Homo sapiens: one gene and its partners. Changing the gene in region 2 together with the main gene of any one other region gives a genetic interaction. Each region holds a gene or a part of one and is shown on either strand. Other genes may lie near its edges.

Evidence for each region.
Region 1: changes in BFAR (region 2) and NF1 together harm fitness more than expected from each alone (negative genetic interaction), as found in Homo sapiens cells (one large-scale study listed by BioGRID).
Region 3: changes in BFAR (region 2) and ACACA together harm fitness less than expected from each alone (positive genetic interaction), as found in Homo sapiens cells (one large-scale study listed by BioGRID).

What each region holds. Positions count from the first base shown.
Region 1 is NC_000017.11:31,374,477-31,378,131, reverse strand, and holds the end of NF1 (neurofibromin), read right to left. Parts: 3' UTR 457-3,655; downstream 1-456. UniProt on the Homo sapiens protein: Stimulates the GTPase activity of Ras. NF1 shows greater affinity for Ras GAP, but lower specific activity. May be a regulator of Ras activity.
Region 2 is NC_000016.10:14,646,447-14,650,101, reverse strand, and holds part of BFAR (bifunctional apoptosis regulator), read right to left. Parts: intron 1,715-3,655; coding exon 1,510-1,714; intron 299-1,509; coding exon 129-298; intron 1-128. UniProt on the Homo sapiens protein: Membrane-bound E3 ubiquitin ligase that plays a role in several processes including apoptosis regulation or reticulum endoplasmic stress. Has anti-apoptotic activity, both for apoptosis triggered via death-receptors and via mitochondrial factors.
Region 3 is NC_000017.11:37,396,712-37,400,366, reverse strand, and holds part of ACACA (acetyl-CoA carboxylase 1), read left to right. Parts: intron 1-3,655. UniProt on the Homo sapiens protein: Cytosolic enzyme that catalyzes the carboxylation of acetyl-CoA to malonyl-CoA, the first and rate-limiting step of de novo fatty acid biosynthesis.

The DNA of each region.
Region 1 (3,655 bases), on a different chromosome or scaffold from region 2:
TTTCTCCACTGATTGGGGGAGGCAACCCACATAATCAAGTAAGTAAAATAGTAACACGGGGCAGCTGAGCCAGGGGAGGTGGTTTACATTGTATACACGTGTAGTGTCACAGAAGATTCTATAGCGGGAAAGCTGAAAAGTTGGAGAGAACTGCCCTCTGACTGGTCAATCTTGGGATGCCCTGACATTTCTGACTGGCTTCATTTTAAGAGAAGCCAGCTTATCCCAGAGAACAGACTCACCTGAGTTTGGCAGGCCCTAAAAAAGCATTTCACAAAAATATTTCACTTTTAGTGTGGAGAAGTTCTGGAAATGGAAAGATCTTTCTCACGGGGAGTAGGAGAGCCAAAAACATCCTTAAGGAAAATGGCCTTAATGTTTCAAAAGATTGGGAGGACTCGGGGGGAAGAAAACAGAGCTCGATACATCTGAAGAAATTAAATAACTCCTCATATCTTAGAGCAGATTGAATTTACATTTTACTTAAAAAAAGGGGGGTGGGGGAAGTACATACACAAGGAGGAAAATGGGGTGAGGAACAATAAAGATCTGAAATGGATTTCTATGATTTTCCCCTACAATGATCGATTTTGTCTGTTGGGCAGTATTTTTCCTGCTGGCGTACAACTGTTTACAGTATTAACAAGGTTGTAGACAAAGGAACTGCCAAAGTTTAGGCCCGGATGGAAAGGACAGTAAGTTATCATATACAATTTAAGTTTACAATACACAGCATTTTCTTTAAATGATGTAACGCAGTCGCAAAAAGAAGTTAACAATACTAACACGAGAATAATCAAATTTTTGTTGTTATCCATGTGCAGCAACTAACTGCTTTACAAAAAAGCAAAATAATACAATATATCATCACATATATTTACAGTATAGTAAATATACTTTTTTTGTCAAATTTTACACAAACTATTTACAGGTGAATATACTGCATTAAAAAAAATTGTGTGGCTGACACTAAGAATGAATTTTTGCCTAAATCCATTGCATAACATTGAGTAAGACATGCCTCATTATGCCTGGGAGTCGGGGAAGGATGTAGAAACAAAAACAAAAAACAAAAAACCCAAACAAAACTGAAAACCCCTAAAACCTACAAACCTGGGAGGGTTGCTGGCTGGCACTCTGTCTCCCCAACTAGGACACAGGATAGAAGCTGACTGTTTAGGATGTGTCCTGGGCACCTGGCTCAGTCATGAACAGGTGTTGAGTGAATGGAAGACAGAGCTGTAGCCACTTTGCCCCAAATCTACTGAACTGCATCTCCATCTGGGCAACTAAGGGCATGCCCCTCGGATGGGAGTACTGGCATAACAGGTAGATTATCCAGGACAAAAACATGACTGAGTTCCTGGTTTCCTCTTTAACAAGTCAGGGGAAACATCTACAAACCGAAACGAATTACTTATAATATTTTTAACAGAACTTATGTCAATTACGCAGAAATGGGCAACTTGGTCTAAACTTCAGAATTTCTTTTATAGATTACAAGTATGAAGACTAAAAAAGTGTTGCATTTCTCAAGGGACACATAGTGGTGAGAGGTTTATCTCATGTACATTTTAGTTACTTGGAAAGCTAGATTTTCCTCAAAAGTCAGAAGTTCTTTAAACAAGGTAAATTTTAAACCTTAGTTAAGTTTTCAAACTCCTAGGATGTACTTACTAGTCAAAGGTATTTTTGCATTTCAAAGGCGGCTGAATTTTGATTTGTGCCAATGCTGATCATTTCAGGCGGTATGAAATACTACACCCTTGGTAAACCCGTTTATGGAAATATCAGTATTTTTAACAGTAAACCTCTGGAAGTTTCTTTATTTTGATGGGAAGAGCAAAATAGCATAACACCCACTATCATATGCACCAAACCAACAAACAAAAACAAGAAAAACATCGAACTAAAGTTATCAAAGGCTTACACTGCCTGCTATTCCAGGGCCTAGAAACTGTGAAACTTACCCCAGAAACACTGGGTTGTGGGAGAGCCAAGACCATGGTGGCAGCTTGGCATCCTTGGCACTGGGTTACTGATCTATTTCTAAACACAGTTCTAATTTCAGCTTTTTTATATAGTCATAGTTGCTCTGTCATTATAAACATTTTCTTCTAATGCAGCCTCTACAATAGTTTAAAAACAAAAGTTTAGTAAATTGCACCTGTCTTCAGTATTTCCAACAATTCTATGGTAAACTCATTAATAATACTAAGGTTTTCTTTCCTCTTATTTTGGCAAATAATTCTTACTTTTCCCAGGACTGTAAACAAATTTAAAAAATTAAATTCTTGTTATTTCTGAGTATCAAAACCAATTTTATTTACATTAACATATTACATTGTTACTGTGTGGATAAATGTGAAATATATTATTAAAATCAGAACACTTAAATGTACCATTATTTATTGAATTAGCTGTGGAATTTAATTTACTGAAATCCTCTAATGAAACAGCACTACAGGAAACTCCCCTCTCCCCTAGGTTTATTTTTTCCCCCCTCAAAGCCATTATATCTTAACATATAAAGGGAACCTGGGAGTAGAGGGATTAATATCTTTTTGTAATAAATATGGTTTAGTTCTAAATTGGAACATCCAGATACCAATATGCTCACTGAAGTCAAATTATTTTGTAAACTGCAGGTACCACAAAGAAATTGGATCTGCATTACTATGAAAATTCCAATGCCATGATAATCCATACCACCAGTATAGCAGCAATTCTAACAGCCCCCCTACTGTCATACTAATGCAGGCTGACCAGTCTTTTCACAGTGATTAAATGCAATTCTAGCATATATAACCTACATGTTTTCTTAAAGAGGTTTCTGATTTTTTTGGAGAGGAGGAGGAAGATTAAAAGACATTCAAAATACATCTTATCAAAGAAATTTATAATATACACCATACTCTATTCTTGGAAATTATTTAACAAAATAAAAATATCAGCTACCCTAAATGTCACGTACCATTCCATTTTGCTATGGAGCTAATGCAAACATCTATGAAAATTACCTTCTGGGAACAATTTTCAACACTTTGTTCACTGATTACCCTGCTCAGAATTAGTTAGGAAAGAAGAGGGGGAGGGGAAAAAATATATATATATATATAATTACTATACTTAGTATAGTTTTGGTTTACAAAAAACAAAACACAAAAAAACCACCTTTAGCAAAATTAAAAATTAAAAGATAATCAACTGGAGAAAAAAATAAACTAGTTTGGATGACTGAGTTTGGATAAGGACTTAGAAGCCATAGTTTTAATTCAGTAATGTTAAGATATATGTGGTCGCACTTATTTTCCTGTAATTATTGCTAATACTCAAGTGTTAGTATTTCTTAAGAATCCACTATAAAATATGAAATTTCCCTGCCCTCCCCCCCAAGTACCTTGTCTGTGGCTTTATGGTGTCAAGTCACTGAGGCTTGACCTCTATGGTTCTTTCAGTTTTGTACGGTTAAAAAAAAAGTCCACAGCTAAAAGATTAAACATACTGGGGTTATAATACTATTTCTCTCATAAACTTGTATCTTGAAAAATGTATAAATAGGACTAACACTTTACTCTGTAGGATGAAGAAGGGAAAACCACAGAAGGCAGAGCTCTGTGCAAATGGCTTTCATCACTGGCCAGTAGTAGCAGTA
Region 2 (3,655 bases):
GATCGATCCGCCTCGGCCTCCCAAAGTGCTGGGATCCAGGTGTGAGCCACCGCGCCTGGCCTGGATTATATCTCAAGAAAGCTGTTTTCTAAAATGTCCACGGTGTGTCAGAAGACTTTGCTCCTCACCTTCCATTTACTCGTTCAGATAAAAACCTTTCCCTGTAAAGAGATGCCCAAGGGCCCAGCTGCTCCAGCCAGAGGACAACTTCTTCCGCCGTCCATTTGGCCACAGCCTTGTGGACCAGGAGGTCGTGTTCAGATTCCCTGCTGCTCCAGTGATAGACGAGCAGGACCACCTGGGGAAAAGTGACAGGGACTTTAAACCATGGAGAGGCAGAGATGCCAGTTTCTAAATATGCGGGTGGGAGGTGGGGAAAGGAAGAGGCTGAGCTCACAGGGAATGATGCGGAGCCCGTACACAGAAGCAGGGCAACAAAAGCAGGGCAACGCCACGGCCACAGAGAACTGGGGACCACAGCTCTCCTCGGGTGCCTCTCTCTGCTGATTGCGTGGCAGTGAGGGCACAGAGGCGAGAAAAGGACTTATCTCAGGCACCTGGGAGCAGGTGGTGCCTTGACTCCATCAACTTGCTCAACATAACTGACTTGTGCCTTTTCTACTGGAAAAACATTTAGATTTTTTATGCACAGAACTTTAAAAGAAAATAGTCTCCACATTGGAAGTTAGTAAACTGGTGGGTTCTTAAGACTGTATTACCAAGGAGGTCCAGGCGTGGTGGCTCACGCCTATAATCCCAGCACTTGAGGAGTCTGAGGCGGGTGGATCACTTGAGGTCAGGAGTTCCAGACCAGCCTGGCCAACATGGTGAAACCCCATCTCTACTAATCACACAAAAATTAGCCTCTTGTAGTGGCGCATGCCTGTAATCCCAGCTACTTGGGAAGCTGAGGCAGAAGAATCACTTGAACTCGGGAGGTGGAGGTGGCAGTGAGCCGAGATCATGCCACCGCACTCTAGCCTAGGCAACAGGGCAAGACTTCATCTCAAAAAAAAAAAAAAAAAAAAAAAGAGCAAGAGATGTAATCCACATAAAATTCACACATTTGAAGTGCACACAATCCACGGTTTTTAATGTGTTCACAAATATGTGTCATCATCACCACAGCTGGTTTTAGTTCATTTTCACCACCCTAAAAGAAAGTTTTTACCTAGATCGCACCACTGCACTCCAGCCTGGGCGACAGAGCAAGAGTCCGTCTCAAAAACAAAACAAAACAAAAAAAGATTGTATTACCAAGGCAGACATGGTCTTGAATTCCAGTTCTACCACCTTTCTCCATTTACTAGGTACTATGATCTGATCTACCTGAGTAAGCAACATTCCTGAGGAAATCATAGAACCCAGCAGATTTCAATGTACGTAGTAAATTACATGGAGTCACATCATCAATTATTTCAGTGATTTCAACAGAACTGACTTCAGTGGAAATCAGGGGTCGGGGGGTGAGGTGTGGGGGGGCACAGAGGAACACAGTGATCAACTTACTGCCACTCCAGTTAAAGCTGTGAGCACACCGGAAAAGAATCCCCCTCCCATCTGCTGATTCGCTCGGCCTGTGTTAGGAGCTAAAGGAATCTGATCATTCCCATATTTCTGAAAGGCTGCAAGACTTTGGACTATGTCATTATTCTGCTGAATGTCTTCAAATCTCAGTCTAATGGCATCAGGAAATAACTTTTCAATGGCATCCCTATGGAGAATAGAAAAAAAAAATTAAGACAGTTGTTTGACTAAATATCATGTTTAGAGGCCAAAAAAGCCCTGATAGTCAACATCTAATAATATATAGCTACCCTAGGAGAACTGACAAGAAATGTATTATAGTCCTGTGGGTAAAAGCAAAAAATCTGAAATAATCTATTAGGTTGTTTACCATTACTTTCTCCTTTTGTTTTTTTGAGACGGAGTCTTACTCTGTCGCCCAGGCTGGAGTGCAATGGCGTGATCTTGGCTCACCGGTGCACACCACCATACCCGGATAACTTTTTTTTTGTATTTTTAGTAGAGATAGGGTTTCACTATGTTGCCCAGGCTGGTATTGAACTCCTGAGCTCAGGCAATCTGCCCACCGGGGCCTCCCAAAGTGCTAAGATTAGAGGCATGAGCCACTGCACCCAGCCTACCATTACTTTCAATGGTAAAAACTGCAATTACTTGTGCACCAACCTGATGATATACATTTACTACTAGGTAAAAGGCTAAATGAAATATGGTATATTCATACAATGAAGTATCACAATTTTAAATGCATTTGCTGGATCACTAAATGTGTCAAGGTGGAGAAATTTAAGACGTACATAATTGATTTAAAATAGTAAACTGCAGAACCATGCAGAGAGCACATCAATGATGTGAGAAAATACTTGCATTTTCTATTGGCACTTGTTTTTTTTTTTTTTTGAGACAAGAGTCTTGCTCTGTCACCCAGGCTGGAGTGTAATGTCATGATCTCAGCTTACCGCAACCTCCGTGTCCTTCAAGTGATTCTCATGTCTCAGCCTCCTGAGTAGCTGGGATTATGGGCATGCGCCATTACACCAGGCTAATTTTTGTATTTTTGGTCATGTTGGCTAGGCTGGTCTTGAATTCCTGGCCTCATGAGATCCGCCTGCCTCGGTCCTCCCAAGGTACTGGGATTACAGGCATGAGCCACCGCACCCAGCCTGGCACATGTATGTTTAGAAGTATTTTTAAGCCGGGCGTGGTGGCTCACGCCTGTAATCCCAGCACTTTGGGAGGCCGAGGTGGGCAGATCACTTAAGGTCAGGAGTTCCAGACCAGCCTGGCCAACATGGTAAAACCCTGTTTCTACTAAAAATACAAAAATCAACCGGGTGTGGTGGTGGGCGCCTGTAATCCCAGCTACTTGGGAGGCTGAGGCAGGAGAATCGCTTGAACCTGGGAGGAGGAGGTTGCAGTGAGCTGAGATCGCACCATTGCACTCCAGCCTGGGCAACAGAGCGAGACTCTGTCTCAAAAAAGAGTATTTTGAAAAATCTGAGGCTGGGTGTAGTGGCTCACGCCTGTAATCTCAGCACTGTGGGATGCTGAGGCAGGAGGTTCACTTGAGCTCAGCAGTTGGAGACCAGCCTGGGCAACATAGTGAGACCTGATCGCTACTAAAAAGTTAAAAAAAAGTATTTAAAAAAATCTGAACAAAAGCACAACTAAGTCATAACTGAAATTATTCTAAGGAAAAAGGAAAGGATTCTAAGATGGGAAAATAAGGGGTCAAAAGGATCTTTAGTTTTATCAGTAATTTTCCAATATTTTAAAAAGAGGCTGGGCGCGGGGGCTCATGCCTGTAATCCCAGCACTTTGGGAGGCTGAGGCGGGCGGATCACCTGAGGTCGGGAGTATGAGACCAGCCTGACCAACATGGAGAAACTCTGTCTCTACGAAAAATACAAAATTAGCCAGGCATGGTGGCACATGCCTGTAATCCCAGCTACTTGGGAGGCTGAGGCAGGAGAATCACTTGAACCTGGGAGGCGGAGGTTGCAGTGAGCCGAGATTTTGCCAATGCACTCCAGCCCGGGCAACAAGGGTGAAGCTCCATCTTAAAAAAAAAAAATTTTAGCTGGGCATTTGGCCAGGCACAGTGGCTCACGCCTGTAATCCCAGCACTTTG
Region 3 (3,655 bases), on a different chromosome or scaffold from region 2:
AGGTGGGTCATCTGAGGTCAGGGGTTTGAGACCAGCCTGGCCCACATGGTGAAACCCCATCTCTACTAAAAATACAAAAATTAGCCAGGCGTGGTGGTGCATGCCTGTAATCCCAACTACTCAGGAGGCTGAGGCATGAGAATCACTTGAACCCGGGAGGCAGAGGTTGCAGTGAGCCAAGATTGCATCACTGCACTCCAGCCTGGGCAACAGAGCAAGACCCTGTCTCAAAAACAAAAACAAACAAACAAACAAAAATATATATATGCTTGAAAATTGCTAAGAGAGTAGATTTTAGTTGTTCTTACCACACAAAAAAATAAGTATTTGCGGTAATGGGTATATATTTGAGGTAATGGATTTGTTAATTAGCTTGATTTAGCCATTCCACAATGAGTACATCTATCAACACATGTTGTACATCATGAATATACACAATTTTTATTTGCCAAAAAATGTTTAAATATGCCATAAGTAAATTAAATAAAATAAATTTCTTAGAACATTATTTATAAAAATAAAGCAAAAAACCAGATCTGTCCAAATATAACTAATAAACTGACTCTCATTATTTAACACTCAAGAGTTGGCTGGCATCAGGATTTTCATAATACCATGGCCATTAAACAGTTTTCGTGAATCCAGGCCTTCGTTACCCATCTCTTCTGCTTCTTCCTCACCTTACTGACTTCTTTCTCATGTACACAGAGTGCGGAATATCTGTCTCATGAGTCACCAGCCTTTGGGCAGAACCCAAAAAATTAGGTGAACTAGAAATATATTGTTGCTAAGTGGCTCGGTTTATCAGACAATTCTAAAATGCCTACTAGGCTGCCTAGCTGCATACTTTTCTGCCTAATGTACAGGACCTCCATCTTGTGACTGTCAAAACAGGCTCCTAAATTATTTTGCATCATTTGGTGACAGGCAGTCTATACTCTTGTGCAACCAACAGGTGCCCAATAAATGCTTGGAATATGCAAGGAACTTGGCATTGTTTAATATAATTGAAAAAGCAAGCATGGACTTTGAAACTTTCCTGAATTTGAATTCTGTCTCCACTCCTTATCACCTTTAAGAATTTAGGGCCTGGTGCGGTGGCTCATGCCTATAATCCCAGCACTTTGGGAGGCTGAGGCGGGTGGATCACTTGAGATCAGGAGTTCGAGACCAGCCTAGCCAACATGGTGAAACCCCATCTCTACTAAAAATATAAAAAATTAGCCGGGCATGGTGGTGCATGCTTATAATCCCAACTACTTGGGAGGCTGAGGCAGGAGAATCGCTTGAACCCAGGAGGCAGAGGTTGCCGTGAGCCGAGATCCCACCATTGCACTCCAGCCTGGGCAACAAGAGTGAAACTCCATCTAAAAAAAAAAAAGAATTTAGGGAAGTTATTATCTTCCTGCATCTCCTTTCTCCTCCTATGTAAAATGAAAATAATAATGTCTAATTCATAAGCGTTTCATAAGGATATGATGAAAGCCCGATGCAGTAGCTCACGCCTGTAATCCCAGCACTTTGAGAGGCTGATGTGGGTGGGTCACTTGAAGTCAGTAGTTCGAGACTAGCCTAGCCAACATGGTGAAACCCTGTCTCTACTAAAAATACAAAAACTAGCTGGGCATGGTGGCAGGCGCCTGTAATCCCAGCTACCCGGGAGGCTAAGGCAGGAGAATCGCTTGAACTCAGGAGACTGAGGTTGCGGTGAGCTGAGATCGTGTCACTGCACTCCAGCCTGGGCAACAGTGCCAGACTCTGTCTCAAAAAAAAAGCCCGGGCATGGTGGCTCACGCCTGTAATCCCATAATCCCAGCACTTTTGGAGGCCAAGGTGGGCGGATCACCTGAGGTCAGGAGTTCGAGACAGCCTGACCAATATGGAGAAACCACATCTCAACTAAAAATACAAAATTAGCAGGGCATGGTGGCGCATGTCTGTAATCCCAGCTACTCGGGAGGCTGAGGCAGGAGAATCACTTGAACCCAGGAGGCGGAGATTGCAGTGAGCTGAGATTGCACCGTTGCGTTCCAGCCTGGGCAACAAGAGCGAAACTTCGTCTCAAAAAAAAAAAAAAAAAAAAAAGTGATACCACAACAGCTAGAAGAGGAGGCCAAACTGTTTTTTTTTTTTTTTTGAGACAGAGTCTCGCTCTGTCACCCAGGCTGGAGTGCAGTGGTGCGATCTCGGCTCACTACAACCTCCGCCTACCTGGTTCAAGTGATTCTCCTGCCTCAGGCTCCTGAGTAGCTGGGAGTACAGGCGCGCGCCACCACGCCCAGCTAATTTTTTGTATTTTTAGTAAAGACGGGGTTTCACAGTGTTAGCCAGGATGGTCTCAATCTCTTGACCTTGTGATCCACCTGCCTCGGCCTCCCAAAGTGCTGGGATTACAGGAGTGAGTCACCGCGCCCAGCCCCCATTTTACATTTTTTTATTTGTGCCCACTGCCTTTTTTCAGAGGATGCAGTTAGCAATTTCAGCCACTGGATGGTGCAAATTCACAAGAGTCCAGTGAAAGTTCCTCAATTACGGTCCAAGGTGCACCTGTTGCTACACTGCACCAAGTGAAGGAGGGTGGGGTAAAGGAAAGACTTTTTGGATCTGAAATTTCAGTATAAACATGGATCGAAGTTCACTAGAAGTTCAGATTGAGGGAAATTTTTAGAATTTGATCACTGACAAATCAGGTCATTGAATAAGGAAAGACAAAAGAAAAGTGTTGTAATAATGAAGAGGAAGAGAAAAAGGAACAGATGATGAAATATGAGGGAAAATAAGTCTAAAGAGATGAATTCAAGTGTTAGCAACAATTATAGTATGACCCTTTACTGGTTTGCATCTCCCTGGTAACTGATAGCAACTTTGATATAAAAATAAAGCTTACTTCATTCTCTTCTAGAAAGTCAGCTATGCTACCCTTAGCTTATCCATTTGGTGGTGTGACATTATCAACAAATATTTTTAGTATCTGCTATGAACATGGTGCTTTGTTGATACAAAGTAATATAGAGATATACAAATTAACACAGATACTGGGCTTCAAGCAGAAGAACCAGTAAGTACATATAAGAAGATAAGTAATTGACTGGATTAAGAAAATGTGGCACATATACACTATGGAATACTATGCAGCCATAAGAAAGGATGAGTTCATGTCCTTTGTAGGGACATGGATGAAGCTGGAAACCATCATTCTGAGCAAATATCGCAAGGACAGAAAACCAAACATCGCATGTTCTCACTCATAGGTGGAAATTGAACAATGAGAACACTTGGACACAGGGCTGGGAACATCACACATCAGCGCCTGTCGTGGGGTGGGGGGATGGGGGAGGGATAGCATTAGGAGAAATACCTAATGTAAATGACGAGTTAATGGGTGCAGCAAACCAACATGGCACATGTATACATATGTAATAAACCTGGACATTGTGCACATGTACCCTAGAATTTAAAGTATAATACTACTACTACTATTACTAATAATAGGGAAGATAAGTAATTCAAGGCAACCTGAGGGCCATTGTGTCAACTCAGAAAATGGAATACTTTTTGAAAGTGGGAGTGGAGTATCAGTGGGATGGGGAGGAAGGGATCATAGGACTCTCAACCTGTCCAGGGCAAACAAAAAATAAAAAGATTTCTTCTGGCC